Linked DNA regions of Homo sapiens. The protein of the gene in region 2 purifies or fractionates together with the protein of the main gene of each other region. This does not show direct contact. Each region holds a gene or a part of one and is shown on either strand. Other genes may lie near its edges.

Region 1 (6,966 bases), on a different chromosome or scaffold from region 2:
TACTAGTGTGATAATTTATCCCATGTGCCCTGGTACTGTGCTGAGAGGGTTAGGCCATCAATTTAGAATTACAAAACCACTGCCCTTTAGAGCTACAAGAACCCTTAGAAATGATTTCCTCCAACTCTTTATTTCATAAAAGAGGTCTGGAGAGGCAGTGTGAGCTCTCACAGGCAGCCAGGATTAAAATGGCAGAATGTTGGCTCTCAGTCCAGGGCTCCTTCTCCTCCCTTATCCACAGCTCAAGGGCTGCTCTCCCTCACAAAGCAAAGATAAGGCTCAGAGAATTATGCAGCCCCAGAACATTTCCCAGGAGCTAAACGAAGGCATTTCTTCTCATACACAAGCTTCCCAGATCCCACCCAGCCTGCACCCTCACCCAGCACTGCCCCCTCACCCAGCCCTGCTGTCCAGTGATGAGACCCTAAAGAGGCGACAGGGCTTGCCTGGGCTGCCTCTTCCTAACACCTCCTCCCCTGAACTCACTCAGGGACTGTCCCCTACAGCTTCACCATGCATCCAACACCAGCCACAGAGAGGAAACACACAGCCAGGCTGCAGGGTCCTGCCTCTGACCCACTTGGTGCGGGAAGACTCCCTGCTGCAAGACTGGAGGCTGCCCCAGGTCATAACTGGGCTTCAAGAATGCAAGAACAGCAAGGACGATGGGCAGCAGAGAAGGAGAATTACATGGCACCAGTTCTGGAGCTGGAGATGCCAGGATATGAATTCCCATCCCTGTCACTTAGCAGCTAAGTGACCTTAGGCCAATTCTTTACCTCTCCAAGCCTTCACTTCCTGGCTTGAAAAACACAATTATACCTACTTCACAGGGTAGTTTTGTGAATTCAAAGAGACAGCAAAGGCAAAACACCATGTCTGACAATTATTTTTCTAATATTATTATTAATCGTAATGGTAAAATAACTCCTGTTCACTGGCTTTCACTCTCAGCCAGGCACAGTGCTAACTGTTTTACACGCATTATCTCATTTATTCCCCACTACCTGAAGTAAATGCTATTAATTCAATTTCACATTTAAGAAGGTATGCTTAGAGGCATTAAGTGAATTGCCCAGTGATACACAGCAATTAAGTAGAGGGGTTAGGATTCAAAACCAAGACGGACTCCAAAGCCCGTGATGACATTTGCAGGTTCCACCTTTCACATTCATTATTTCATCCAATTTAAGAAACCCTGGGAATCACGTGATTGGTAGGTCCTGGGGGGAAAGTATCCCACTGACAACCAAGCTGAGATTGGCAAGGACCCTTGGAATGGGGGATTTGGTAATCTAATTTTCTAGTTAGTGCAATATTTACTAGAAGGCTTTGTTTATTGCTAAATATTTTCTAAAGCAAGGCTCAGAGCAAGAACTTGCCAACTAGCATGCTTACATGGCCACGGTGGGCCCAGCCACCAGCACCATGCCCTCCTTTCTGCTGAAGATCTCCACTCTCCTTCTCGTTCTCGCAGGGGCCCAAGGCTCAGGAAGGAACGTGCTGACCACCCCTGGGGATGAGGGGACCTATGCTCTTTCCTAGCTCTGCAGGGACTGAGATTCCTCAAAATTAATATTGAAAGGATGAGCTGGAAGATCTGCAAGATTCATGAGAGCCAGAGAGGGCAGCTAGTACCATTAAAGATGAACCTGGACTCCAAGCACCTCTAACACTTTCTGTCGTTAGTCACCACGACTGCTGATATTTGCCACACACTTACTGTTAGACATACTGGGCTGAGGACTTGCCTGGCACTATTTCATCCCCACTGCAACCCCGTGATAAAGGCACTGTACTTTCATCTCCACTTCACAGAGAAAGAAACAGAGGCTAAGAGAGGATAAGTGACTTGCTTAAACGCACACCGCTAGTAGCCGAGAACCAAGATTTGAAGGCGGGGCACATATTGTAGTAAACATTTGGTGAATGAAACCTCCTCTGTCTATGCTCTTAGCTACTAAGTCCTATCAAGCTCGCCCCATAACCCTGAAGTCATCCTTTTCCACGCGGAGCCTTGCTTCTCCCAAGAGTACGCTCTAAGTGTTGGCTGGCAATAAAGTAGGCAGACACTGGTCGCCCTGCACCTGGTGCAAGACTCTGGCCTGACGGTCACATACTTTAGCAGAGAGTTCCCATCAGTGAGCTGGAGACGGGTTCCTAAACACACACATGGAGTCAGGAGTTCACTGGGTTCCTTCTTCAGAGGCTACTCTGGCACTGCCAAGCAGGCCGTGGCAAGCTCTTACCACCGGACACACATGGTAGGTGCCCTACTGGCCCCCAAAGCGCCCAGGAATCAGCTGCAGGCCTGCCGGGGTTCTGCCTTCAAAGGCAGTTGGGGAGGCCCAGGCCCGCTCCGCGCACCTCGCGTGGCTCCCCACCACCCCCGCCAAATGTGCACCACCCATCACCTCCCAAAGCAAAAGGGCCTGAGGACCCGACGCCAGTGCCTGCCACGAGCTGAGGGCTCGAACTGGCAAGCCCCAGGGCGTTGCCCAGGTCCCCGGCCCCCGGCCCCCGACCCCCAATCCCCGGCCCCCGACCCTGAGGGTCCACCCCCGCCCCGCCCACCTCCCGCGCCTCCCTCAGCTCGCTTCACACGTCACCCCTCAGTTCTGCAAACTCTCCTGGATCCCGAAGGCGTCCTAGAACCTCCCCCTCACCCCGGGGCCCAGCACCGCGTCGTCCCCTCCAGGGGGCCGAGGGTTCGACACCTCCACTTCAAGTCCCAGGCGGGTGTCGGAGTCCGCTCCAGCCCCAAGCGCGCGCGCGTCTTACCTGAAGCCTGGACTCCGCGGGACGAAGCCACCTCCGCCGACGCGTCCAGGAGGCCCCACGGCGGCGCCGCTTTCCCACCCCGCCGCCGCCCCCAGCGCCAGCTTCTGGCCCAGGAGGCCCAGAAGGCCCAGGCAGCCAGCACAGGTTTGGCCGCGCCGCCGGGTTCGCAGCGACCGCCACCTCCAGGCTCGCAGGTGTCCGCCGTGCGCCTGCCCGGCGGGCGAGCCCGGCGCGGAGCCTGTGCGCCTGCGCAGAGCCGCGAGTTCGGTTGCCCTGGCCCCGGCCACAACCTTGGCTCGCGGAATCCTGGGAGGTGTAGTTTTGCGTACGAGGACAGCCCGCGCCGCCACCAGCCTGCGGAATGTTGGGAGTGATAATTTGCGCCGAGAGGCTGAGTTTTACTTAGTGTTAGGATTACACAGTTATGGCAGTTCTGATAATAAATTTAAATGCAAGTTTAACCAACAACCAAATGTCATTGTAAAGTCAAGGTAATTAATACGTTTACATGCTTTTAAAAATTGTAATGCTACAGAGAACTTACAAAAGCACCAGTCCTCTGCGGCACCATTCCATTAACCAGCTGTCACCTTATCCCACCGTCCAGTCCTGGCTGTCCAGTCCTCAAGGGCAGCTACTTATGGCTGTGGCATCTGGCATTCCCGCGGATTCTCCGAATATACATATGCCCCTATTTCTTGAGTTATGAATTTTAGATCTTTTGACTTCTTTTTTAGATCTCTTGACTTTTTTTGAACTTAAGTCATCTAGAGATGCACCTACCACCACCAACTCCACCTCCATAGAGTTATAAGATTTCTACCTATCAAATTGGGAAAGCCCTGACTTTAATTTATGATTATTTTAAATTAGCCCAAATGTTAAGGTATTAAGTTGGTAAATTTTTGCAGGGCAATTTGTCAATACAGCCAAAAACCTTTAAAAACATGTAGTCAAAAGCCTCTAACCAAGAAATTCTAATAATTGTGGATGACTGCAAAGGCTGAATAGTGTTGTTTAGATGATAATAAACTGAAAGGCTGAAGTGGTGATATTACTTTCAGAGAGAGTAGAATTGACAGCAAGGAAAATTACCAAGAATAAAAAAGGGATAATTATATAATGATAAAAGGTTCAATTCACCAAGAAGACATAATTCTAAATGTGGATACACCTAACGACATAGCCTTAACATAAATAAATCAAATGATAGAACCATAATTAGAAATAGACAACTCTGCAACTGTAATTGGAAACTTCAGCATCCCTCTCTCAACAACTGATAGAACACTAGACAGAAAGTCAGCAAGGATATAGAAAAGATCAACACTAATACCATCCTAATCTAATTGATATTTACATAATACTTCACCCACCAACAGAATACACATTCTTTTCAAGCAACCTTGGTATATATATTAAGATAAACTGTATCCTGGATCATAAGTTTTTAAATATACAGAAGACATTAATATATATTTTACCAAAGTAGTTATACAGATGGCAAATAAGGACAGATGTTCATCACTAGCCATAAAGGAAATGCAAATTAAGACTATGCTGAGATATCACCATACACCTATTTAAAACAGCTTAAAAAGGCAGGGCGCGGTGGCTCATGCCTGTAATGCCAGCACTTTGGGAGGCCATGGCTGGCGAATCACGAGGTCAGGAGTTCAAGACCAGCCTGGCCAACATGGTGAAACCTCGTCTCTACTAAAAATACAAAAATTAGCTGGATGTGTTGGTGCGCGTCTGTAAACCCGGCTACTCAGGAGGCTGAGGCAGGGGAGAATCACTTGAACCCAGGAGGCGGAGGTTGCAGTGAACCGAGATCGCGCCACTGCACTCCAGTCTGGGCTACAGAGCAAGACTCCATCTCAAAAACAAACAAACAACAACAACAACTACAAAACAGCTTAAAAAATAAAATAGCAAATGCTGGTGAGTATGCACAGAACTGGATCTCTCATATATTACTCACAGATGGGTATATCATGGTAGTTTCTTTTAAAAAACTAAACATATGCTTCCCATATGACTCATCAATCACACTCCTGAGCATCTATTCCAGAGAAATGGAAACTTATGTTAACACACAAACTTGTACACAATTGTTCCTACTTTCTTTATTTGTAATTGTCAAAAACTGTCAACAAACAAAATGCCCCTCGATAGGTGAATGGTTAAATAAACTGTGATTACATCTATATAAAGAATATCATTCAACAATAGAAAGGCACAATTGACACATGCCACAACTTGGGCATTATGCTGGGTGAAAAAAAGTCAGTCTCAAAAGGTTACATACTCTGGTTGCCATTTGTATAACATTCTTGAAATGACAAAACTATAGAGATGGAGAAAATATTAGTGGTTGTCAGAGGTTGAAGACAGGGTGTAGGTGTGAATATATAAGGGTAACAGAAGGGAAGCCTTTGTACTGATGAAATAGTTCTTTGTCTTGATTGTGGTAGTGGTTACACAAATCTACACATGTGATAAAATGACTAAAACTACACACAAACTTTCTATCAAGGTTAAATTCCTGATTTTTATATTGTATTATAATTACGTACAATGTAACCATTGGGGGAAACTGGATGAAGAGATTCCTCTCTGTACTATCTTATTATAGATTTTCACAAATCTATAATTATTTCAAGATAAAAAGTAGGAAAAAAAACAAATTTGGAAACTGCTTAATTCCTCAGTCATGCAGGATTAAGTAAAATCACAGATCATCTCAGAAATCATTGAAAAGATGCTGCAAAATAGTATTTACTTAATAGAGTGGAAGACATTTCACATTATATCATATTTAATGAAAAAAGTATAAAATATTCCATAAGATCCCATTTTTAAAAAGAATATATTTGTGCACAGTAACAGCACAGAGCACAGAAGGATATCAGCAAAATTTCAATGAGCCATGACCCAGGGTGGTAAGACTATGGGTGTTTTTTTATTGTCATCTTGCTGGTTACCTGTATGAATTTATTCTGAAGTGAACATATATTGTTTTGTTATTTTAAATATAAGTTGTTTAAAAAACTTCTAAGTTTTAAAAAGCTCCTATGTTGAGTTTATGGGTCTCTATAAGATAGCCAGTCATAGTCACTGATAGAAAGAGGCACCTAACAGTCCAAGAGAGCAGCCCCTTGCTGGAGGTGGACAGGGATTGGGTTCTGGCCAAAGCTGAATCTCCTGGATAGGATCTAACAGGATGGCCTGTAAGTCACCTAGGACCCAGTTTGCAGACACTGATCATCTTTGAGTCCATCATGTTTTGAAAACTATTCTGGCTGTGGAGCATTGCTGGTAGGAAGCTTTAGTAGACTGGAAAAAACTAGTACATTTCTTTTTATTAAATATCCAAGGTGGCTTAGGTAGCTGGCTTTTTGAGGTCTTTCCCAGCATTTTAAATCCATATTCATGCATGCCAAGCTGAGTTAGGCATTCCTCAAGTCCAAGCCCTCTCCCTTTGTCTGGGGTCATATTCCCTTTCTATTTCTCTGTGTGGATGCCTTCCAAACCCACATCTCTAGCCCTGAATTCCAGATCCACATTCCCAATCCAAGTTGCTTGGGGCATACACACCTCCACCTGGCTGGCCTGCTAGGATCTTAAAATCTGCATGATGAACATGGTGGTGATGGTAAAGATTGGGATGGTTTTTAAATATGTCTGCAAATTATTTGACTATTTTTCCTTTGAAAGGGGGAGTCTAGTTCCCTTCCCTCAAATATGGGCATAACTTAGTAACTCACTTCAATGAACAGAAAATGTCAGAAGTGATGCTATGTGACTTCTGAAACTGGGTCATAAAAGTGGTACATCCTCTCTCTGTCTCTCTCTGGTTGCCTTGGGAACAGATTCACCATGTTGTGAGGAAGCTCAGGTTACATGGATAGGACCTGCATGAGTGTATTAATGTGTTAGAGCTGCCATACCAAAATTTCAGACTGGGCAGCTTAAAAAACAGAGATTTACTTCTCACCGTTCTGGAGGTTGGAAGTCCAAGATCGAGGTGTCAGCAGGGTTGGTGTCTTCTGAGGCCTCTCTCCATAGCTTGAGGATGGCCGCCTTCTTACTGAGCCCCCACATGCCTTTTCCCTATGGATGCCCATCCTTGGTGTCTCTTGTGTGTCCCAATCTCCTCTTCTTATGAGTATACCAGTCAGA
Region 2 (7,538 bases):
TAGTCTATAGACTTCCCTGAAGACGTGGCTTCTGAACTTGTATCATCCTCCTCTTCAGATATCAAAGATATGGCAGCCTCTTGGGACCACTCATTTGGATTTTCCCAGCCAAGCTCCCCAGGGTGATTATGCCCTTTTGCTGATGGCGAGCTCCGGTTCCGCTGCTCCAAGTTGATGTTTTTGTCCACATAGGTAAAAGAAGTTTCTAATTCCTGGCTGCAGCAGTTACAGACTTTCCGTTCCGCTGTTATTTGGTTGTTCCCTGAGTGGAGAAGTCCTGGTGGAAAGGCATCTGGCTGAAGAGTACTGTTTTGCAGAGAGGAGGAGGGGGATGCTGGAGAAGAACTAAGTTTAGACCCTTCCATCTCGGTTGCTCTTGGGGTGGATGCACACTGTTTCTGACAGCAGAGAGCAGCTCTTGTGGCTGCTGTATCTGCCTGGTCACCAGGCAGCCCTCTTGAACTCCAGTCCCTGGCATCACAGAGGTCTGCCTGGTTGCTCTTCTTAGCAAGGTAGTGGAGCTCCATGAGAGCTAGTCAGACATCCCCCAGCAGCTTCCGGAAAGTCTGCCAATAGCAACAGAGTTAGATAAGAACCCAACAGAAGCTAAGGTTGTACTTCCAGGAGTGTTGCTCCTGGGGTCCCCATTTCCTTCACAGCTGCACCTGTTTAGCCCCTTTTCCACCTCAAACAGGCAAAAGAAGGGAGGGGATACCTAGTGGCAGGAAAGTGTGGAAGGGACAAATGCTCTCACTTGTCATAGTGATTAACACTGAGAAACTTAAGTCAGGGTAGAAAGGTGCGTGGAGGAAGTGGCAGTGTCTACTGAGAAAGAATACTGCCGTCACCAAGCCAAATTTATTCAAGGACTCGCGCATTCCTGCAAAAGGATCCCTCAAACGAGAAGGCAAGTTTCCTGTAAAAAGACAAATGAGAAAGGCAAGAGCCCTTTTTAGCAGAGCTGCCGATTTTCTGGAGGACTTGGGGAAGCATAGACTTGTTAATTCAGTAAGATTGTAAGTGTTTACACTCTCCCTAGTTCAGAGCAAATTCTAATACAGATTAGCTTTGGAGCATCACCATCAGTGAATGACTATACACCCCTATCAGCTGGGCAGGAACTCAGCATTTTGATTCCATAGCTCTGAAGTAGATGAAAAAGGCCAGCTTAATCAGCCACCTCTGCTAAGCTTACACCTCATACATCCAATGACCCTAGTGACACAGCCCTGTATTTACAAGACCATATGCTGCTTATTCACTGTGCTTCCACTTAGCCCTATTCCCTCACTGCTCCATGGGGGAAGCATGTTCTGGACCCCAAAGCATACAGGCAACAGACCTTACGGCAATCCCTGCAAAATACAATGGGCCAACCCACTCCTCCACACACACACCTGCCTGCTCCAGCTGCAGGATCTGCTACTCCCGTTCCCTGGGTCTGTGTTCCTCCCTCTCTGCATGCTTTGCTATCACACAATGCACAAGAAATTGACCATCTGGATAGTTTTACAAACCCAATCTAGAAGTGAACTGATAATAAAAGACAAACTATAAACCCACAGAGTAAGAGTTCTGTGGAGACAAATAGGTGAGAAGCTATTTCCAAGGTTACCTCTGTAATTTTATAAACATGTCACTCCTCACCCCCGACTGCAGCAAGGGGCATTTCTGGGAGAGAACTTTGGTTTGAGCAGAAAACCATCGGCTTTTCTCTGCCTCTGCCATGTTTCTAAGGAATAAAAATTCACTTTCCACTATCATTAGAGATTTTAACCAAAGGCTCCTTTTATTTTGCTTCCAAATCCAGGGTGATAATTGATTTAACCCAACGGCTTGAGGCTTCTTATAATTCAAAATCCACAGCTCCAAAGCTGGTAACAGAAACACAGGCAAGGGTCACCTAAGGTCAACCTGGCAACTCAAAATATGGGAGAGGGAATTGACATGTTTTCTGCTACACCTAAGAGTTTGTTTAAAACAAAACAAAAAAAGCAAAACAGAAAACGTTTTTCTCCTGTTATCGGAGTTTCTCTACAGTGAAAACAGCAAAAAACAACAGGGCAAAAGAATCACTACTAAACTAGAACAAACCCCCACTAAAGGATCCCTCAATGAATGAAGTGATGGTAACAGGCTTCATCAATTACCGATAACTCTTCTTCCAGTTTTCTCAGGCATTAGGGGCTCTGATTAACCTTTGGTACCATTAACTCATCACACTAGCCTACCTTGGATAAAATCAGCAGGGTTCTTTGAGACTTTCAGTTTATAACAAAAGAAGAGAGAAATCCCCACTTAATTCCCTACGGCCGCCTCTACCTCTCTTTAAAGAAAAGCTACTCCCGCTTGTTCGCTTGTTCTACCGGAGGTATGCTAGCAGCACAGTCGATTTCCTTTGCAGCTCCCTAATCCGGGGTTTCCATTCTCAGTGGAGAATGGATAATCCCAGGGGACCAGCTAAAGACTCTTTTCTTCCGTCCTCTCCCTCTTTTTCCTCTGATCTGCTTAAAAGCCCAGTTAACGACATTGCACCTTAAAGCGAGGGGACACGCACTTTCCCTCGTCCATCTGTCATCAATTAAAAGCATTAATATTTGCTTTAAACTGACACAGGCAAGGCTGATCTCGGGGAGGCGACCTCTGGATGCGCCCTGTGCGAGCAAAGCCGGGAGAGCGAGCCCCAAGCACCTGGCAGCGGTGCCCCCAGCAGGCGCCGAGGAATCCGGCTATCCATTTCTGGTGAACTCTGCGCCCACTGAGGCATTCGAGGTACGGATGTGTCCGCCTAGTACTCGGAGACGAAGGAGAGAGAGCGGGGATATGCGCTCCAGCTCTGCTAGGCTCCAGGGCTCTCACCCTTGCATTCAAAGCCTCCACCCCATCCCACTCCCCGCCACTCACCTTCTGCTTCGGCCACCCGGTGCGGCTCCAGCACCGCGCGCTCTCCCGGCACGGTTCCCGGAGAAAGTCCCCCAATCACCAGCTACGGCACTTGTAGCCTCTGCACGCCGCTCGGCTCCGCCGGGTGGGCAGCGCCCGCCACGGCGGGCGGGGTGGGGCGGGGCGGGGCGCTCCCGGAGCATCCCGGGAGTTGTAGGCCAGGGGCGGTCCCTGCATCCCTCCTGTCTCTGTCTCCTCCCACGCCTTCTGGGTTTTACCCTTCCTGCAGATGAGTTCCCGCCATACCCTCTTACTCCTCCCCAGCACTTAAGAAGACAGCACTGTTTTCTAAGCCTAGAGTGGAGTTCCCTAGCCTCAGGTGTGGCCACAAGACTGTGAAAAGGAAAGTATATTCGACTTCAAATGTGCCAGATAATTTGCATATTTTGTCTTTTTAATAGTCAAAACAAATCTTCCAAGTAGATTTTATTAATCCTCATTTTACAGATGTGGAAACAGGCTCAGAGAGGGTAAGTGCCTCATCCACAGTTACCAACAGCAGCTTCTGAAATTGCATCCAGGAGTCAGATTCGAAAGTCATTGCGTGTCTCACAAAATCAGAAGAAATATGACCATAAGGGGTAAGAGATTGTCCGATGTACCAACACATCCCCTGTATTTAGCACAGTGGTATTCGTTGAATGTATGAATAATAATGACTCAAAATAACAGTTAACATAAATAGCGCTTATTATTGCCAGGCTCTCTTCTAAGCACTATAGATACATTATCTCATTTAATGGTCACAATTTATTGTTAAAGTACTGTAAAAAAAAATCCTCATTTTAACAGAAGGCAAAACTGAGTTACAAAGTAGAATAATTTGCCCAATGTCACACAACTAATACTTAGCAGAGGTGGGGGGGGGGGGATGAACACCAACAGATTCTAAGCGTTATGCTATATGGAATGAATGGAAGAAAGACCAGAAGGCCAGAATAAAAGGGCTCAGGAATAAAGGAAATCTGAAGGTTGAATCTTCTGAGTTGTGACTCTTAGGATAGGACAAGGTAACTGTGTCACCAGCCTCTTTCAACCAGAGTGGACTGCAATAGCCAACAGCCACTGAAAGCCCAGGGTATGTGTAGCTTGCAGATAATCTCCAGTTTTCCAGCATCCTGTTGGGACAATTCTAGGGGAGCAAAAAAGGATTATAGTATGGATGGGCTGGGCACGATGGCTCACGCCAGTAATGCCAGCAATTTGGGAGGCCGAGGCGGGCAGATCACGAGGTCAGAAAATCGAGACCATCCTGGCCAACATGGTGAAACCCCGTCTCTACTAAAATAGAAAAAATTAGCCGGGCGTGGTGGCGCGTGCCTGTACTCCCAGCTACTCAGGAGGCTGAGGCAGGGGAATCGCTTGAAGCCGGAGGCGGAGGTTGCAGTGAGCAGAGATCGTGCCACTGCACCACTCCAGCCTGGCGACAAAGCAAGACTCCGTCTCAAAAAAAAAAAAAAGAAAAAAAGAAAAAAGGGATTAGGGATTATAGTATGTATTATGACATTGTGCTTGTAGCTCACATAAATACTGTGGTTGCTTGCTTTCAAAAGAGAGATCTATCTCCTTTAATGACAATTATGTTGGTATTTCATTACATTGGATAGAATCTATAGTCACATGATTACAGGAGTTCACAATGCTCCCTCTTTAAAATTCTTTTTCCCCCATATGATTATATTTGTAGCCAGTGAGGCCCATTTGTTGATAAACATGACAGATGTATTATGACTTCTCCTTTGCTTACTACACGGTTCTCCAGCATGAATATCTTTCCTCCACTGCCCTATTCCATCCACACTTCAAGGACTAGTTTGTCAAGCCAAATCTACAGGGATGCATCCAGTTCTTAGTACTACATATGCAAAAAGAAATAAAGAGAGAAACTAAGATGTAGAAGGAACTTGAATTTATGTTGACGAGGAAAAACTTAGGAACTTAGGCTATTTAGCCATAGGAGAATACTGAGAGGAAACAATAAACTAGCTTCAAATATTCTGAAGTTTCTAAAAATAGAAGAAGAATTCTATAGTATATTTAAAAGGGTAAAAGCAGAACAAATAACAATAATACTTTTTTGTTAGTGCTATTATGTTATCATCTTTAATTTTTACACCAACTTCACAAGGGAGGCAGTATTATTGCACCCATTTTGCAATGTAGAAATTGAGGCTTGAAAAGATGTAGTTTCTTTTCCAAGGCCTGAAAACTAATATCGGGCAGAGCTAAGGTTCTAACTTGGGTCTGTGTGATTCCAGAGACTTGATCTCTTTGCCAACACATTATACTGAGCAATGCTTCACAATCTTTTTTACAGCAGAGTACACATAAGAGGTGATACTATTTATGGCAATGTGATAAACACAGGAGGTTTCTCATGGCCATAGTTCTGGGGCTGTGGGTACTTCAGTCTCTGCAGGACAGCTTGGAGGGCTAAGGAAATAAATAAGTCAGCACACCTGTGACACACTGGAGTGCTGGAGGATGCCAAAGCACTGATCTGAGAAGCTCTGGATAGCACTATTAAATTTAAGAAGGAGGCTGATTTGAGACTTTGTATAAGGAAGGACATTATTTCTAAAACTTTTAAATTGATGTCTCATGAAAGCAAATTCTCTGGTACTGGTGAGGATTAAAAAAAAAAAGGAGAGCCATTTATTAGTGATTTCATAGAAGGGATTCATCTAGTTGGATTAGAGGACCTCTGTGATTCCCAGGCTGAACTGATTTTAAGTTACTTTTTTTTTTTCCCTGAAGCCTTTTTCTTCCAAGGATTACACCTCCTGTGAACTTTGCTGGGACTTGTCAGTACTGGTGTTTTTGATATTTATCATCCACTGCTTTACGACATTTCTGGAATGGCTAGGTAGCCACTGCATGTGGTTTAACTTCTCACTTAGGTGCCTAAATCTCTAAGGTAATCAATCATAAACTCCTTAAGGTCAGCATCTACATGCTGAACACCTTACCTCCTGCAGAAAGTGCAGTATTTCTGTTGAGAGGGAAGATGTCAAGACTGAACTGAAGACTCGAGATGATTACCTATAATAATACTTGACTGTCTACATATTCTTGAGCATTAAAAATATATCAATTCCAACCAACACCACAAAATCCCCTTTAAAAGTCTGCTGACAAAAAATAGAGATGAACCAATTGAGCACTTGAAAATAAAAGCTCTGCAAAAATTGCCACTTGCTGGAATACTTTCCCCCTCTCTCATAAGTCTATGTCTAAAACTTTCCTGAAAATTGACCCAAGAACCTTTTTCAAAAGCCTTTCTTGTTCAACGTCCTCAACTTATCGTTACCTTTCTAACTGGCTTTCTAGTAGCATAATATGCTTTCTTTTATGCTGTTATTTTAGATATAGAAAAGTATTTCATGTATATTTTATAGTGCTTTCTATGTGATCTCTCCAGATAAAATTTAAGCTCCTTGAGAACCAACATATTCTTTCTATTTCTTTGAAGCTATATGTGGGCATGAAATAGTGCGACACATAGGCAACAGTAGTTCCTCAATATATGCTGATAAAACAATTCACAGTTGTAAAATGTTATCTAGAAATCTACATAATGATTTTGGTCTTACTCTAATTTTAATGTCTCACATTTTCCTGTTTACTTATACTCCGTTTCATGTGAGAGGAGCAATCGTTACTACACTAAGTTAACTAGTTGAAAAATAAGAAAAATTCTGAGAAGTAAATTTACCATGTAAATCAAGGGTAGTGCTGGGACTTTTAACAACCAGCCTCTTGTAATAATTACTGAGGATGTGTTCCAGTTTCTTTTTCTTCAGTAATAATAATAAGGGCTGATTAGTGGACTATTAAGGGATTATTAGTGGAGTTATTATTATGAGAGGCTGGGTCCTAGAGAAGTAAGAAAGACATTTTTGGAATAGGCTGGAGGGAGGATCAGTCATTGAATAGGGATAGCATGAGGAATATGGTCCTATACCCCATACTGGTGCTAAGAATGAAGGTGACCATAATTTAGAGAATGAAGATCTTGTTAATGAACAAGATTCTAGGAACAAAAAAAAGCATTAAATTAGAAAGGTTTCCATTTAATAAGAATGCTTACAGTGGCCAAGTAGGCATGTTACTTAAATAAAGTGGCTGAATACAGACAATAGGGATGGGGAAGATTACCGAAGTTAAGAGCAAGTGCCTTTCCCAAAAGGGGCAGTATCCCCTAACTGTTCTACCTGAGTTTTGTCTTAAGTGAATTTAGACATTAATGAAAGTCAGATATCACAATTTGTTATTCAAAATTCAATGTATTTTAAACCCTTAATGAGTCAGAGAAAAAAAAAATTATTGGGAACATTTGTTTCCCGTAGTAATAGACTAGGTAATTTAGACCTACTCACTGCATTTGGCTTTGAAGAAATGTATTTATATTTGAAACATTTAGAGAACCCAAAATTATTGCATCCAAGGAGCAAAGATTTTTTTTTTCTATCTTTTGGGGAGGGGTGGAAAAGATAGTTTTCTCTTGCTTCTGTATGTAAACACACTAAATTATTTTTTTCTCTTGTTTCTCATCTGTGATACAGACTTCAAAGTTTGTACGCCTAGGACATCTG
Region 3 (6,953 bases), on a different chromosome or scaffold from region 2:
GGACACAATACACTCATGCTCCCAGGGAATAAACTAAAGTGAGAGCTGAATTTCATTCTTGTTTCAACCCCTGTAATTAAGCAACAGAGTAAAAATCTATTATTTGACTGTCTCGGAATTGGCTATATCTAAATCTAAGCTTACATTATTTTGACTCCTACTCTTTATCTGAGTTGGCTAACTGCATCTTTCACTCTATTTTGAAATAAAACTAATAAGCCAATTTTATAAATACAAATAAAAATACAGTGAATTCATCTTGGGTGAAAAGAGTAGGAAGCCTTCAGGGAGAATGCAGAGAGGGACCTAACACTGAGAAATTATGTATTCAGAAGTCCATTTTGTCCTAATTTACTTTCTCTTTTAATCTTCACAAACATTCTAGTCAATAGAGGCCTCATCTTATAGATTAGGAAAGTTCAGAAGCTTTAACTCTGACTCTCTCCCCTTTGCTCAAGGTGCTTAACCACTCTAACCTACAAGAAGGCTCTTGCTCAACTCAAGGCCTTAATCTCTGCTCAGAATGGTCTACTGTTTCTCCACAAGGCTGTCTCCTTCTGCTTCAGGTCTCACCTCAAATAGTACCTCCTCCGTTCAATCTAAAGTAGTGTACACCTACGTCAGTGTAGTCTGGTAAATTTTTTTAAAAAAGGAAAAAAAATAAAGTTGTGTACGCCAATTACTCATCTTTATTTCCTTCAGAGAACACAAAATGGTCTGTATTCATCTTCTTTTTGTGTTTAAGGGCAGAGATACTTTGATTATGACAATGAACACACCTGCCTACAGTCATTTAGCAAGTAAATAGTAGGACCTGGAAACCAATCCAAGGAAATCTGACTGCAAGCTCCTGCACTGCCCTACCACTACTTTTTGTACAGATGATAGGGAAAGTGCTTTGGGCTGGGAAATAAATTAAGAGGTGTGCCTTGCTGCTTTTTTATATTCATTCACTATAAAGAAATTATACATACAGTTAATACCACAAAATATTTAATCCGAATTTATGCATACAGTTAATATTATAAAATAATTCGAATTTCAAGAGCTATTACATTGCCTATTAGAATCACAACTCAATTTGGAAAAACACTACATTTATAATGTGCCTTATCCTAATACTTCAAATTTGTTAAGTAACTGGCATCTGCGCAAATAGTCTTTCAGGGCTAAAAGAGAATTGTCACATATACAAATGAGTTTTACTAACAAGCTTATAATATTCTTTTAAAAATTGTTTTGAATTTCACAATACATCATGCAGAAAACTTTTAAAACCAGCCATATGACATCATTTCGATAATGGTGTTCTTTAAGAAAGATGACACATGCACGCACTGTTGCGTTTTTGCTGTTAAACCATATTCTTGCAGGTAAGTCACTTCATGTAAAACGCTAAGCGCGGCTAAAGCGGACCACTAACAACATTCTCTTTGTTACCTTACCCACAGGATTTAATACTTACTGCTGAGTTCTCCATCCTCAGATACTCCTGTCCCTCTCATTCCTAGGTAAGTCAGTCCCAGTATTAGGAAAAATAAGCAGGCAGCAGTTAAGAGAAACATCGACAAGTAGTGGGCACTGAAACTCCCTGTTGGGGACACCTCCTCCCGTTTAAATTGCTGGAGAAGTTCCTCTTCGGGTTCGGAAAGCTTCGGTTTGTTGTATGTGTTTTTCAGGTAGGTATGATTGGAGCCCGTATGATTGGCGTGATTGATCCTGAGTGAACTAGAGGCGGCCACCGCCGCACTGGGAGGGAGACTGTTAGAATAAATCCTGGGGGAGTCCACACTGAAGGCCCCACCGCCAATATGATTATTGGTTTTCAGAAGGGAGCCTGTTGACGAATCCAAGGTTGAGTCCATGTCAGTAAGTGGCGGGGGCAGGAGAGGGGTCAGTTTCTTAGCGTTAACACGGTATCTAGGAACGGGGCTGGAGTCCACTTGATCACACCCTCCTCCCTGCTCCGCGGCCGCCGCCTCTTCGAGGTTTCGGCTCCTGTCTAGACTCCCGGCAGCCGCCGCCCTGTCATTCATCGCGAGTCCTCCCCCTCCCTGAACTGAAGTCTCCAGCCTGCCGCCGGCCGATTTAGCAGTCAGCGGGGGGAGAGGCTTACTATGGGTTCGTCTGGGCCGATGCCGGGAAAGGGAGTCGTCCTTTAATACCTGTCTGCTGGAGGCCACGTCGTCGTCGTCCTCTTCCTCTGAGTCCGAATAGTTTTCCCGGCAGCTGTAGGGGACAAGCCGGCTGCCATTCACGGTCCGGCTCGCCCAGAGCGGCTCCTCGGTCTCCGGGTCCCTCTCCTCACCGTCCTCTCCCTCCCCTTCCTCGTCCTCCACTGCTCCATCTTTCCCCGGCGGGGTCTGCAGCTCGGGGCCCGCCGGCCTCCTGGCCCCCCACCACGAGTGGGGCTTCCTTCGCTCTGCAGAGTTGCTGTTAGTCACCTCGCTGGCGGCCAGGGGCGCCGGCGGCGCTTTGAGCCCGCGGTACTGGAGCGAAGCCCGGTCTTTCCTCCCGCCGCCGCCGGCCTGGTCCCGGGGACTGGCCTCCACGTCCGACTCGTCCGAGCTGAAGCCCAGCAGCACTTTGCTGCCAGCCGCGGGGGCGGCGGAGGCGCCCCCGGGCCCTCCCAGGAGGCTCTCTGGGCCAGAGGCCGAGATTCGGCACAGGCCCCCAGGAGTCCGTAAGTAGGAGAGGTCGCCCGAGACCGGCCGGACCCCCATCCCCGCGGCCGCCGCCGCCGCTGGTCCCGCGGCTGCGACCGTGGCGGCTGCCGTGTTATTGTTATTACTGTTCCGCGTCTTGTTGCCGCGGCCCCCTGACCGGTGCTGTTGCTGCTCTTCCTCTCGAAGCTTCTTCAGCTTCTTGAGGTAGACCGGGCGGGTGCTCTCCGTCACTGGTCCGGGAGACAGGCCGTAACGGCGGAGCTGAGAGAAAAGCTCCTCATCCGAGAGCTGCTGAGGCGCCGAAGCTGCTGCCGCCGCCATTTTCTCTCCAGGGTGTTTTACAAGCTCCGCGCTACCGGAAGTGACGCGCCGCCCTAGACCCTGAACTAGACCGCGCTGCGTCGCCCTCCCAGCGCCGCGGGCATCTCGGCCAATGGGAGGCGCGGGAGGAGCTCACCTGAGCGGGAAAGAGCCACCTGAGCAGCGCGCGGCTCCCACGGCGGAGACTGTTTCTACTCTCTCACCTTGAGGTGTCGGCGCATTCTCCCCCTGCTCTCTATCTCATCTCCAGCTGTTCTCCGCCCTGCCCTTCCAAGTGCCGTTCCCGGGAGCTGTCTCTTACTAAACCACACCTTGACCTCACCTTCCTAGGTTCCTGCCACCGGGCAGTAATAACTGAAATCTACCTTGAAGTTTATGGCGTAAGTTTTCTTTACATCTGGATTCCCAATGCCGAGGGAGCCTAGACCTACTGAAAGAAATTCTGCTGGCCAGACTAGATTGGCAGCTTTCCCGTCTGACTTCAGGTTGTCTATTTTCAGTTCGTCTTTAGCTTGACCTACCAAAAAAAAAAAATTTTTAAGTGACTTTCTCTCGCTGCTCTTTTTGAGAAGCCTCACCTCTCTCATTCTGAGAAGATACGGAGTACACCAATCACAATACAATTTTCTTCTAGCGTAATGGCTGTTCATTCATTAGTTAATTGTAAGATATTATCTTTTTTTCCTTTTTTGAAACCTAATGACTTTACTACGTCAGCACTTGAAAGTGAAAGAGCTTGTCTGCTTCATTCTAAGACTCTCAGAGACATAACACATGATCCTATTTATTTCCTTCTTAGCACCTTTCCAACCAATAGTTATTTATCAGTTATTAATAAATATTTGTTTACTTTCAAAATTATTTATTGTCCTATCCTTTTGGACTATAATAAGCTCCATGTGTGGAGGAACCTTGCTTCTGTTACTCACAATACTAGTAGAAGCTCAATAAATATTTGTTGAATGAATTAAAGAATTGCAAAGAGAGGATAGTATGAGATGAATATTTTGAAATAAGACTAGTGCCAGGTGAGGTGGAGAAACCTTCACACAAAGTCAAAAAAACAAGGACAAGACCTGGAACCCCAACTCTGCCATTTACAGAATAGGAAATGAATCCCAGAGAGGTGAAATGTGCCCCATGTGGTGAAGATCTTGTCCCATTTTCCCATTTCCCCAAACCTTGGCAGACAGACAATTCTTTAGTACTTCAATCCTAGTAGCTACAAAATACTACAATAATTTTTTGTTGTTGAATGAGTTATTTTACCTATTACATTACCCTATACACCTGTACAGAAAAACGTTAGTCAAAAGCATAAATACGGCCGGGCGCGGTGGCTCACGCCTGTAATCCTAGCACTTTGGGAGGCGGGGCGGGGGGCGGGGGTCAGGGGACGGATCACGAGGTCAGGAGTTTGAGACCAGCCTGGCCAACATGGTGAAACCCCGTCTCTACTAAAAATACAAAAAAATTAGCCGGGCGTGGTGGCAGGCGCCTGTAATCTCAGCTACTCGGGAGGCTGAGGCAGGAGAATCGCTTGATCCCGGGGAAGGCAGAGGTTGCAATGAGCCGAGATCGCGCCACTGCACTCCAGCCTGGGCAACAAGAGCGAGACTCCGTCTCAAAAAAAAAAAAAAAAAAAAAAAAAAAAGCTTTTCTGTGGAGGACACTTCCTTGTCCTCTATCATTGAGACTTTAAGATTTATAAATGTTCCTGAATCTATGACTGTTATGCACTTATAAGAGAGTTTTGAACAGTAAACTATAGTGGCTATGATGATGATGACCCAGATTTTATTGCCATAATTATCTGGGTGGGAACTAAAATTATTATAAACTTAGTGGACTTGTGTCTCCATGTAGCAGAGTGGTTAAGCTGTGAGCTTTGGAGTTAAACAAAACTAGATATGGACCCAGCCCTGTCTCTTACTTTGATTCTTGGTTCAACATTTGCTTTATGCCATACTGGCTCCTCTGATAGGAATCATAGAGCTCTGTTGGCTCAGCCTCTGATTTTCATGAACCTTTAAGTGACCTCCTATAAGGACTGTTGAACCAGTTATGTTTCTGCCTGTGACTTTGGGCAAGTTAATTCATCTTTCCGAGCTTTAGTTTCTGTACAAACAGAAGACGGATGATAAAAATTCCTCAGAAGGCTGTTTTAAGGAGTAAATAAAACTATATGTATCTGCATAATGCCTAGTACCATACGTAACACAGTGTGCACTCAATAAATGTTAGTCAATAATATAAAGCTAAGCATTGTGTGCAGCCATTTCAGTAGCATGGCTCCTGAGAACTCTATGTAATAGCAGTTAAAGAAAATGCTACTCCATAGACAAAAATGGAAATGGTCAAACTTCCCTCAAGGCATTAAGTAAGTCCAATTAAGAGTTAATGAAGATGAGCCGGGCGCAGTGGCTCATGCCTGTAATCCCAGCACTTTGGGAGGCCGAGGCGGGCGGATCACCTGAGGTCAGGAGTTGGAGACCAACCTGGGCAACATGGTGAAACGCCATCTCTACTAAAAAAAATACAAAAATTAGCCGGGCGTGATGGCGGGCGCGTGTAATCCCAGCTACTCAAAAGGCTGAGGCAGGAGAATGGCTTGAACCCGAGAGGCGGAGTTTGCAGTGAGCCGAGATAGCACCACTGCACTCCAGCCTGGGCGACAGAGGGAGACTCCACCTCAAAAAAAAAAAACAAAACAAACAAACAAAAAAACTACAAAAAAAAAATTAGCCAGGTGTGGTGGTGCATGCCTGTAATCCCAGCTACTCAGGAGGCTGAGGCAGGAGAATCGCTTGAACCCGGGAGGCAGAGTTTGCAGTGAGCCAAGATCATGCCACTGCACTCCAGCCTGCGTGATGGACCAAGGCTCGGTCTCAAAAAAAAAAACAAAACAATTTTTTTTTAAAATGTGGATGATATTGCCTACCCTACCTGGCAGACAATTCAATCAATATTTGTTGAGAATGATGAACGAACACTGTATGTGAAAATGTTGTTCAAATATTTTGTTTACAAGTTAGGTATTATCAGATATTAATAATAACGACAACTATGATTGATATACTACTTTATACTTTTCAAAGAACTTTCATATACATGACCTTGTTTGATCTACAAGAAACCTTTCCTCTCTGAAGATACTAGAGCATGATTTATTTCATGGAACTATATGGGTTTATAATTACCCTTTGTTTGGTGTTTGAGAAGACCCAACGCTTTTTCAGGAGAACCTTCACTGCCTCAACACTGTCACTGCTCACTTCCAACATTCTCCTCATTTGCTAGTGGATCTTGCTCCTGCTTCCAGACTGGCTAACACTTAAAGTATGAGGCTCTATTCTTGACTGTACCCAGATACTTGACAGGGAGTGCAATCTCAAACTCAGTCCTGCTCCATAACTTCCAAAAATCTGAGGGAAACAATTTTGATGGATTCTGGTCCAACTCTTCTTTGAGGTGCTTTTAATTTCATTTCTGCCTTAAGCCTCCTTATGAGAGACCAATGTAGCTTGGGCCACATTACTAACACGCTGTTCCTCCTACTCTCTTTCCCTACCCACCCTGTTCCCAATAGAATACCTTTCACCATGTCACCCTTTTAGCCTTGACATCAGTTTATATTGAAGAATGATATGAACGCAACATTTTGTTCAAATAAATATATTGCTGAGAGTTCATTTCATTAAAGAATGTCCTTTCTGGTCTCATTATTAGAAATAGTTGTGTTTTTCCAGAGCAACTCATTTGTTGTTGTTTTAATTTTTACTGAAATGACATTCATATAACATAACATTAATTGTTTTATATTATTTTATTTTTGAGACAAAGTCTTGCTCTGTCACCCAGGCTGGAGTGCAGTGGTGCTATTTTATGGCTGAATAATATATTTCATTGCATGAATGTGCCACTTTTTATTTATCCATTCATCCACTGATGAACATTTTGGTTGTT
Region 4 (7,231 bases), on a different chromosome or scaffold from region 2:
CAGAGTGTGTGAAAATAACGGGATGGGATCATCGCCCCATGGACCTGGATCAGGGCTGCCTTCCACACCGCGGTGGCACCTGCACGAGCCCACCTGCTTACTGCCACCTTCTCTCCTCACGCTTTCCTCCAGGCTCGGCTCCCGGGACACAAAGGCCGAATCGCCAGGACTTTCACTCAACCCGGCAACACCCTCAGAGCCATTCTGGGGGGTCCCAGTCTCACCTCTGCCCCACTCCCACATGGTGGCATCACGCACTGTCTTAAGTCTTAAGCCAGACTTCAACGCCTTCTTCACTTCCCATAAAACCATCCCAGAGGAACGCGGGGAGCAGCGTCCTGCCTGGGAACCAGGCGCTCCACATGACCACTGCACGCATGACAAAGACGAGCAGGGTCCAAAACAAAAAACAGAACGTCTCCCCAAACAGACTTCTCTACTGCCAGGATGATTTTTTCCTAATTAACCATCTTGATTAAAGTAAAAGGAAAATCAACATGAACATTCTTAAGAATTAATATAAAAGTTTCTAATTCCCTTGATATTGGCATTTCATAAGAGCTTTCCAGGAAATCTCGATAGTTCAGAGTGCACTGAGTGAAAAGAATGAATGCTGTGTGTCCTTGGCATCCCTGGTACCATTCAACAAACAATAGAAAAATGACCTCCTTGTGATAGTACTGACCCATTTCAGGACCTGGACAATAGTTCCAAGTCTCAGATCTTCTGTTTTTGAAAGAGAAAACACTACAGCATTTATACATCTACCTATCTACCTATACGGTTGCCAGAAAGTACCGAGACTCCGAGGACGGGCCATATGTACTTGGGGGAGCCTGCACAGGCACACACACCTCGAAAGCCACATCCAGGTGGCAGGGTAAAAACACCCACAGGGCCAGGAGAACTGCTGCTACCACACCCTGGGTCTCCTCACGTACTCTGCAGCTCAGGGGGGTCCTGCAGACCAGGTGCACAGTGACGGGTGAGTGAAAACGTTCTGGAGTACCAAGAGCTTTTACACCAACACATTTACTAAGCTGCCATGGGCTAGGAAAATATGGTTATAGCCTAAGGGGAAGAAAGGAGACCTCTGGCAATCAGAAGCGTCAAGCCTCAGATGTGCCCCTCCAGCGAGGTGTCCCAGGGTCCAGGGGTCCTATCCCGCTGCGAGTGGAGGGTTCCCTCTACCACCTTGTGACATGTCATTCTCTTTTGTGATCACGTTAATTTGGACATGAAAAAGTGACACTAGAAGTTGGTCCCCACACTGCTGCGGTGGCCTCATGACAGTGCCTGGACAAATCCATGCTTCACCTGAGTCCTGGCCGTGAAGATGCCTGGGGCTGCCCCGACAGGAAACCCTTGCCACGTCCAGAGGGGAGAGGGTTGGCTCCTTCAGTGTGCCTTTCAGCAGGGGCGTGTGCTAGGATAGAGGGCTCATTGAGGCCAGCAGGGAGGAGCACCTGGGAGGAGCCCCACTGCCGTTCCACAGGCTCCAGCCAGACTGTCCTGCTGAGAGGCCTGCGGTGGGGCTGCAGGGAGGGTCTGTGGTCCAGGCCTGGAGGGACCTTTCTCAGCAAAGCTCCTCAGAGGGAGAGGGAGGAAGAGCTGGGAGATAGCGGATCCTGAAGGGCTGCGGCACCCGCTTCCTTTTAGGAGCCTTCTACGACCTGACACTTGTTTCAAGTTTGGGCCCTTACACTGGAGAGCTAGCCGGATTCACTTGACACCAAGAGCCTCACATTTCCAAACCTCTGCTTTGTTGAAAATGTGGTAGGAAAGGCCATAGGGCATACAACCTCAAGAATAAAATAAGAAATGGAGCTGGGACACTAAGAGACGGCTTTTCCAGGGGTCACTAAGGGGGAAAGGTGTTTGGGAGAGAGATGTGTCTGCTGATGGAAGAGTGGTCACAGGTGCTCTGTGCCAAGCCTAGGGTACACAGAGGGCAAGGGAAAGACCATTCGGAGGGAGAAGCAAAGGCACCAGGCAACATGGACTGGCAAGGAGGTACCAGTCTCCAAGGATGAGAGAATCCAGACCGGATGGCAGTAGGGGTGTGAGACAGGTATGGTGGGGAGGGCGAATCATTTGCATGCAGGAAGATGAGAGTGAGCTGTGTGCCTGGAGGAAGGCTCCAAATTGGATGAGGGCAGGGAGAGCAAGGACTGGGATGGGGTGGGGAAGGTTGGCCTGTTACAGGTTTGACCAAGTGCCAGTCAGAGGGAGAAAATTCCCTTATCAGTCCAAGGAGACCCTGCATAGACCAGAGGAGGGGTATTTGAAGTCAGAAGGTGGTGGGAGGGGGTCATTCCCAGGAGGGGTGCCCCACACTAGCCAGAGCGGGGAGGCGTCCCACACTAATCAGAGGGGGATGGTCCCCACACTAACCAGAGGGGGAGGTGCCCCACATGAATCAGAGGGGGGTGGTCCCCACACTAATCAGAGCGGGGAGGTGCCCCACAGTAATCAGAGGGGGATGGTCCCCAAACTAATTAGAAGGGGGGTGTCCCACACTAATCAGAGCGGGGAGGAGTCACATAATCAGAGGGGGGAGGTGCCCACACTAATCAGAGGGGAATGGTCCCCACACTAATTAGAGAGGAGGGGTGCCCACACTAACCAGAGGGTAATGGTCCCCACGCTAGTCCCAGGGATGAGGTGTCCCAAAAGTCAGAGGGGGTGGTGTCCACCGCCTGTCGGAAGAAGGGGACTTTCCCACAGGTCAGAGGGCAGAGTCCCAGCCCAGTCTGCGAGTCAGGGGGCAGAGATCCCGCACGGGTGGGACGGGAAGGGGGCCTGACGGGTCAGGGGGCGGGACGCGGCAGGGTCGGAGGGCGGCGGCAGGCTCCGGGACGGGGGTCCGGGCCCGTGGCTGGGGCAGGGCGCCGGCGGCCGCGGGCGCAGTCACTCACCCGCTGCGGGGCTGGCTCCGGTGCCCGCGATCGGCGGGGCTTGGCTGGGCTTGGCTGGGCTTGGCTGGGCTAACGGCCGGGACGGAGGAAGGTGGCCGACTTCCGCCCCGCGCGCGCTCGCCCCGCCTCTGGGCCCGCGTTCCCGGCAGCCTCTGCTCTGCGGCTGCGCGCGGACGGCGCGAGGGCTGCTGGGAGCTGTGGTTTGTGTTTTTTTGGGTTTTTTTTTTGTTGTTTTTTTGTGTTTTTTTTTTCCGTCCTGCGCCTGCGCGCTGGAGGAGCGGCCGGCTGGCTGCAGGCTGGAGGGGCGCGAGGGTCCGCACTGGCACATGAGGGCCGTCTTCCACCGCGTTGCGCTGGAACGTGGGCCCAGCAGATCTTTTGGGGTGGGAGGCATTGAGGGGGGTGAAGGCTACTAGGGAGGGAAGTTCTCATTCTCCGAGCGAGGGCCCCCTTACATGGGCCTCCCGACCCTCGTAGTCTTGGGAGGCGGAAAACCGTGGGCCCCTTTCTGCCATCCTCATTCTCAGGCAGCCCCTCTCCTTGGCCCTTCAAAACAGCCGCCTCCAGAGTGCTGCTGACCAGTTGCCAAAGCCAGGATCAGGGAGGTCTAAGGCTGTAGTGTCCTGGGGTGGGGACGGTGGGGTGTTTCCCTGCAAAAAATCTGCAGTTGACAAACCTGCCAAACAAGGGTCTCTGATTTCTCCTTTCCCCTCCGTAGCCCTAGCCCCCGAGATATTTTAGGGCACTCTGTTAAAAGGCTTCCCCGGCCCCGCCCTCCTCCATCCCAAAGTTCTGAGAAAGGCCTGGTGGCCGTGGAGCCTCTGGCAGGAGAGCTTGGCAGAAGGGTGCACCAGCCCCCTGCCCATCTGCACCTTCAGCTTTCCTGCTTGATACCAGCTACTTCCCCCAGCTCTCTCAAAACCTTCCGTTCAGTAAAAGATACACAAGAGGAGGAATTCAAATTATATAAATGGTACGCAATGAAAAATAAGCCTCCCATTGCCGTTCTGTATTCCCTGCCCAGAGGCGATCACTAGATGTTATATGGTATCCAAACAAGTCATAAACACGTATCTTAAATTACCTTTAACTAAATAGAAATGTGCTAAACACTGTTATGCACTTTTGGTTTTTGATTTTGGAGAGGAGACAAACCTTTCTTGAATTCATTAATGTTTCTTGTCATGCTAAACTGAGTCCCAACCATGTCTCACATAATACTCATTATTGTCAGGCCTCTGAGCCCAAGCTAAGCCATCATATCCCCTGTGACCTGCACATATACATCCAGATGGCCTGAAGCAACTGAAGAACCACAAAAGATGACATTCCACCATTGTGATCTGTTCCTGCCCCACCCTCACTGATCAATTGACCTTATGACAATACACCCTCCCCACCCTTAGGATAATGTACTTCGTGATATTCCCTCACCCTTAAGAAGGTACTTTGTAATATTTTTCCCACCCTTGAGAATGTACTTTGTGAGATCCACCCCCTGCCCACAAAAAATTGCTCCTAACTCCACCACCTATCCCAAACCTATAAGAACTAATGATAATCCCACTACTCTTTGCTGACTCCTTTCTCGGACTCCGCCCACTTGCACCCAGGTGAAATAAACAGTCTTGTTGCTCACACAAGGCCCGTTGGTGGAATCTCTTCACATGGACGCATGTGACAATTATATTTGAATCTTTTATTTTCTAAAAGATCCACATGTGCCTTCCAGCTTAAGAAATAACACATTATTCCTGCATCTTTAAAACTCTCCAGGTTCTTCCTGTTCTGTACTCCCTGCTACCCCCAAGAGGTGGTAGCCACAATACTGAATGTTGTGTTAATCATTCTGTTGCCTTACTTTATAATTTTAGCACATAGGTATGTATCCCTAAACAATATATTGTTTAATTCTGTCTATTTTAACCTTTATAAAATGAAATAAAACTGTATGCAATAATTGAGAGATCCAGTGGCTCTCTCAGAGGCCTTCGAACCAGAGCAACACCATCTTGAATAAGGGCTGGGTAAATGAGACCTGCTGGGCTGCATTCCCAGGAAATTAGGCATTCTTAGTCACAGGATGAGATAGGAGGTTACAAGATACGGGTCACAGAGACCCTGCTGATGAAACAGGATGCAGTAAAGAAGCTGGTCAAAACCCTCCAAATCCAGGATGGCAATGAAAGTGACCTCTGGCTGTCCTTGCTGCTAATTATACCCTAATTATAATGTATTAGCATGCTGAAAGACACTCCCACCAGCACCATGATGATTTACAAATGCCATGGCAACGTCAGGAAGTTACCCTAGATGTTCTAACGGGGAAGAACCCTCAGTTCCAAGGAAATCTCCTCCCCTTTCCCAGAAAACTCATGAATAATCCACCCCTTGTTTATCATATGAGCGAGAAATAACCATAAAAATAGCCAACCAGCAGCCCTTGTGGCTGCTGTGCCCATGGAGTAGCCATTCTTTTATTGCTTTACTTTCTTCATAAACTTGCTTTCACTTTACTCTGCGGACTTGCCCCAGATTCTTTCTTGTGGAAAATCCAAGAACCCTCTCTTGGGGCCTGGACTGGAACCCCTTTCTGATAACATCTTGCTGAGAAACCATGAAGGGACAACACTGGAGAGACCTCTGACCCAAGGGAAATAGACTTCAGCACCAGTTGACCAACTTTGGGTACATGGTGGGGTATTTTATCCAGGGTAATGGATGGAATTGGGTTAGAGGCCCAAATTAGGAGAGTTAGAGTCCCTCCTAAGACACAGGGAGTTAGAGGCCCCTCTTTGTAAAGAACAAGAATGCTTGTTCAAACTTGGGTTGAAGGCTCAACTTCAGAATGTTAGAGGCCACCCTTAGTAAGAGCCCTCTTGGTTAAAAATGGATTCAGCACTGCAGGATGTTAACCGCCATTCTATTTGGATTAATTTGCCATGCCCTCTTTGCTGATGGCTGTGGGTGACAAGATTAGGCATGTGCAGGATCATGGGACCTGGGGAGCTTTTTTTCCTCCCCCAAAGGGGAAAACTTGAGAGCTGATGGGACTGCTGGAAAAGATCCCTTTTTGACAAGCAGCTGTCTGAACTTTTGATTCAGTGTCACTGTGATGGATGGGTCTTTCTCTGGCTTCTGTGAGCTCCTCACCTCTGCAACCCACCACAGGCAACACTCTTCTCCCTTCCCTTTCCTCTCTCTCGTTCTCGCCTTTCCCTTGTCTGTCTTCTCTGTCACTCTGGGTGATGATCTACTCTTCCATCTTGCCCAAAAACCACCTGTTGAAACTCCTGGTTGGCAGTCATTCCGCCCCCACTTTGAATGGATTAAACACTACAGGGGCCAATGGGGGAAGTTTTGAGCCTTGCCAGGTCGATATTGGGTGCTGAGGGGGGTGGCTAGTGTCTGTGTTTTGTCAAGTGCACTTTGTTCTGGCCAGAATGGAAAATGTTGATTCGATTCCTCCATGCAACTTGTTGTGTAGCATCTTGCAAAATTGAGAGGCTTTTCCTATGGTTCCATGAAATGGAAAAGGGTGATTTTTGCTTTGCGATGTGGCTTGGCCCCCACAGTTATGGTGCTGTGAGCAGGGTCACGAGGGCTGCTTAGGGAAAGGGATCCCAGAAACCTGGCATGCTGGCAAAAGGGTAAGAATTTCTTACCAGTCAGGCCTTTGGTCTCTCTCTCTCTATGCAAACCAGTTGAGTGAATGGTAAAAATCACTGTCTCCTCTGCAAGGTTTTGATGAATGGGAAAAAGGATTTGTGAGGCTAGTCTTAGGCTGTGATGAATCTGGTGTACTTTGTGCTATGAATTTGGCTTTCTGTGTCATTCTGTCATAAAAGGGGTATCATAGGATAGAATGTGGCCCTAGGACCCCTGTAAGCCCACTATTCAAGCTGGCCCAGCAAACTGGTCAGTTGACAACTTTGCTTCAGGTCACTGAAACAAAAACTGGATGAGGATTCCCCCTCGTCTTGTTTTATGTCCTTGGGAGCTTGACTTGTGACCATGGAGGGGTATTTTCTCTTGGTCTGTACCATCCCTGTGAGTCATGTTTTACAACCAAAATATATAAAAGAGCTCTATTTAATTGGCTTAAATAAAAATAAGCACTTAAATAAAATATTTTGCCAGAAAAATTAAAATGCTAATGCCTTTTTGTTCACATGACTTTAGTCATCTTTGGAAAAGCAAGGCAGTTTTAAAGATTATTGGTAAAATAAAAATGTCTTTGAAATTTAGACATTTGGTCTAAATTAGGCAGGTCAGATACTAGGTTTACTAAACTACTTCTCTGACTTTTGATA

What was found.
Region 1: the proteins of TMEM74 (region 2) and POMGNT2 purify together in Homo sapiens (co-immunoprecipitation; 2 studies listed by BioGRID and IntAct, with this or other methods). This does not show direct contact.
Region 3: the proteins of TMEM74 (region 2) and LEMD3 purify together in Homo sapiens (co-immunoprecipitation; 2 studies listed by BioGRID and IntAct, with this or other methods). This does not show direct contact.
Region 4: the proteins of TMEM74 (region 2) and CANT1 purify together in Homo sapiens (co-immunoprecipitation; 2 studies listed by BioGRID and IntAct, with this or other methods). This does not show direct contact.

The regions. Positions count from the first base shown.
Region 1 is NC_000003.12:43,103,055-43,110,020, forward strand, and holds the start of POMGNT2 (protein O-linked-mannose beta-1,4-N-acetylglucosaminyltransferase 2), read right to left. Parts: upstream 3,026-6,966; 5' UTR 2,782-3,025; intron 1-2,781. UniProt on the Homo sapiens protein: O-linked mannose beta-1,4-N-acetylglucosaminyltransferase that transfers UDP-N-acetyl-D-glucosamine to the 4-position of the mannose to generate N-acetyl-D-glucosamine-beta-1,4-O-D-mannosylprotein.
Region 2 is NC_000008.11:108,784,572-108,792,109, forward strand, and holds the start of TMEM74 (transmembrane protein 74), read right to left. Parts: upstream 3,024-7,538; 5' UTR 2,905-3,023; intron 567-2,904; 5' UTR 528-566; coding exon 1-527. UniProt on the Homo sapiens protein: Plays an essential role in autophagy. TMEM74-induced autophagy may involve PI3K signal transduction.
Region 3 is NC_000012.12:65,165,631-65,172,583, reverse strand, and holds the start of LEMD3 (inner nuclear membrane protein Man1), read right to left. Parts: upstream 3,002-6,953; 5' UTR 2,988-3,001; coding exon 1,466-2,987; intron 1-1,465.
Region 4 is NC_000017.11:79,006,746-79,013,976, forward strand, and holds the start of CANT1 (soluble calcium-activated nucleotidase 1), read right to left. Parts: upstream 3,020-7,231; 5' UTR 2,919-3,019; intron 1-2,918.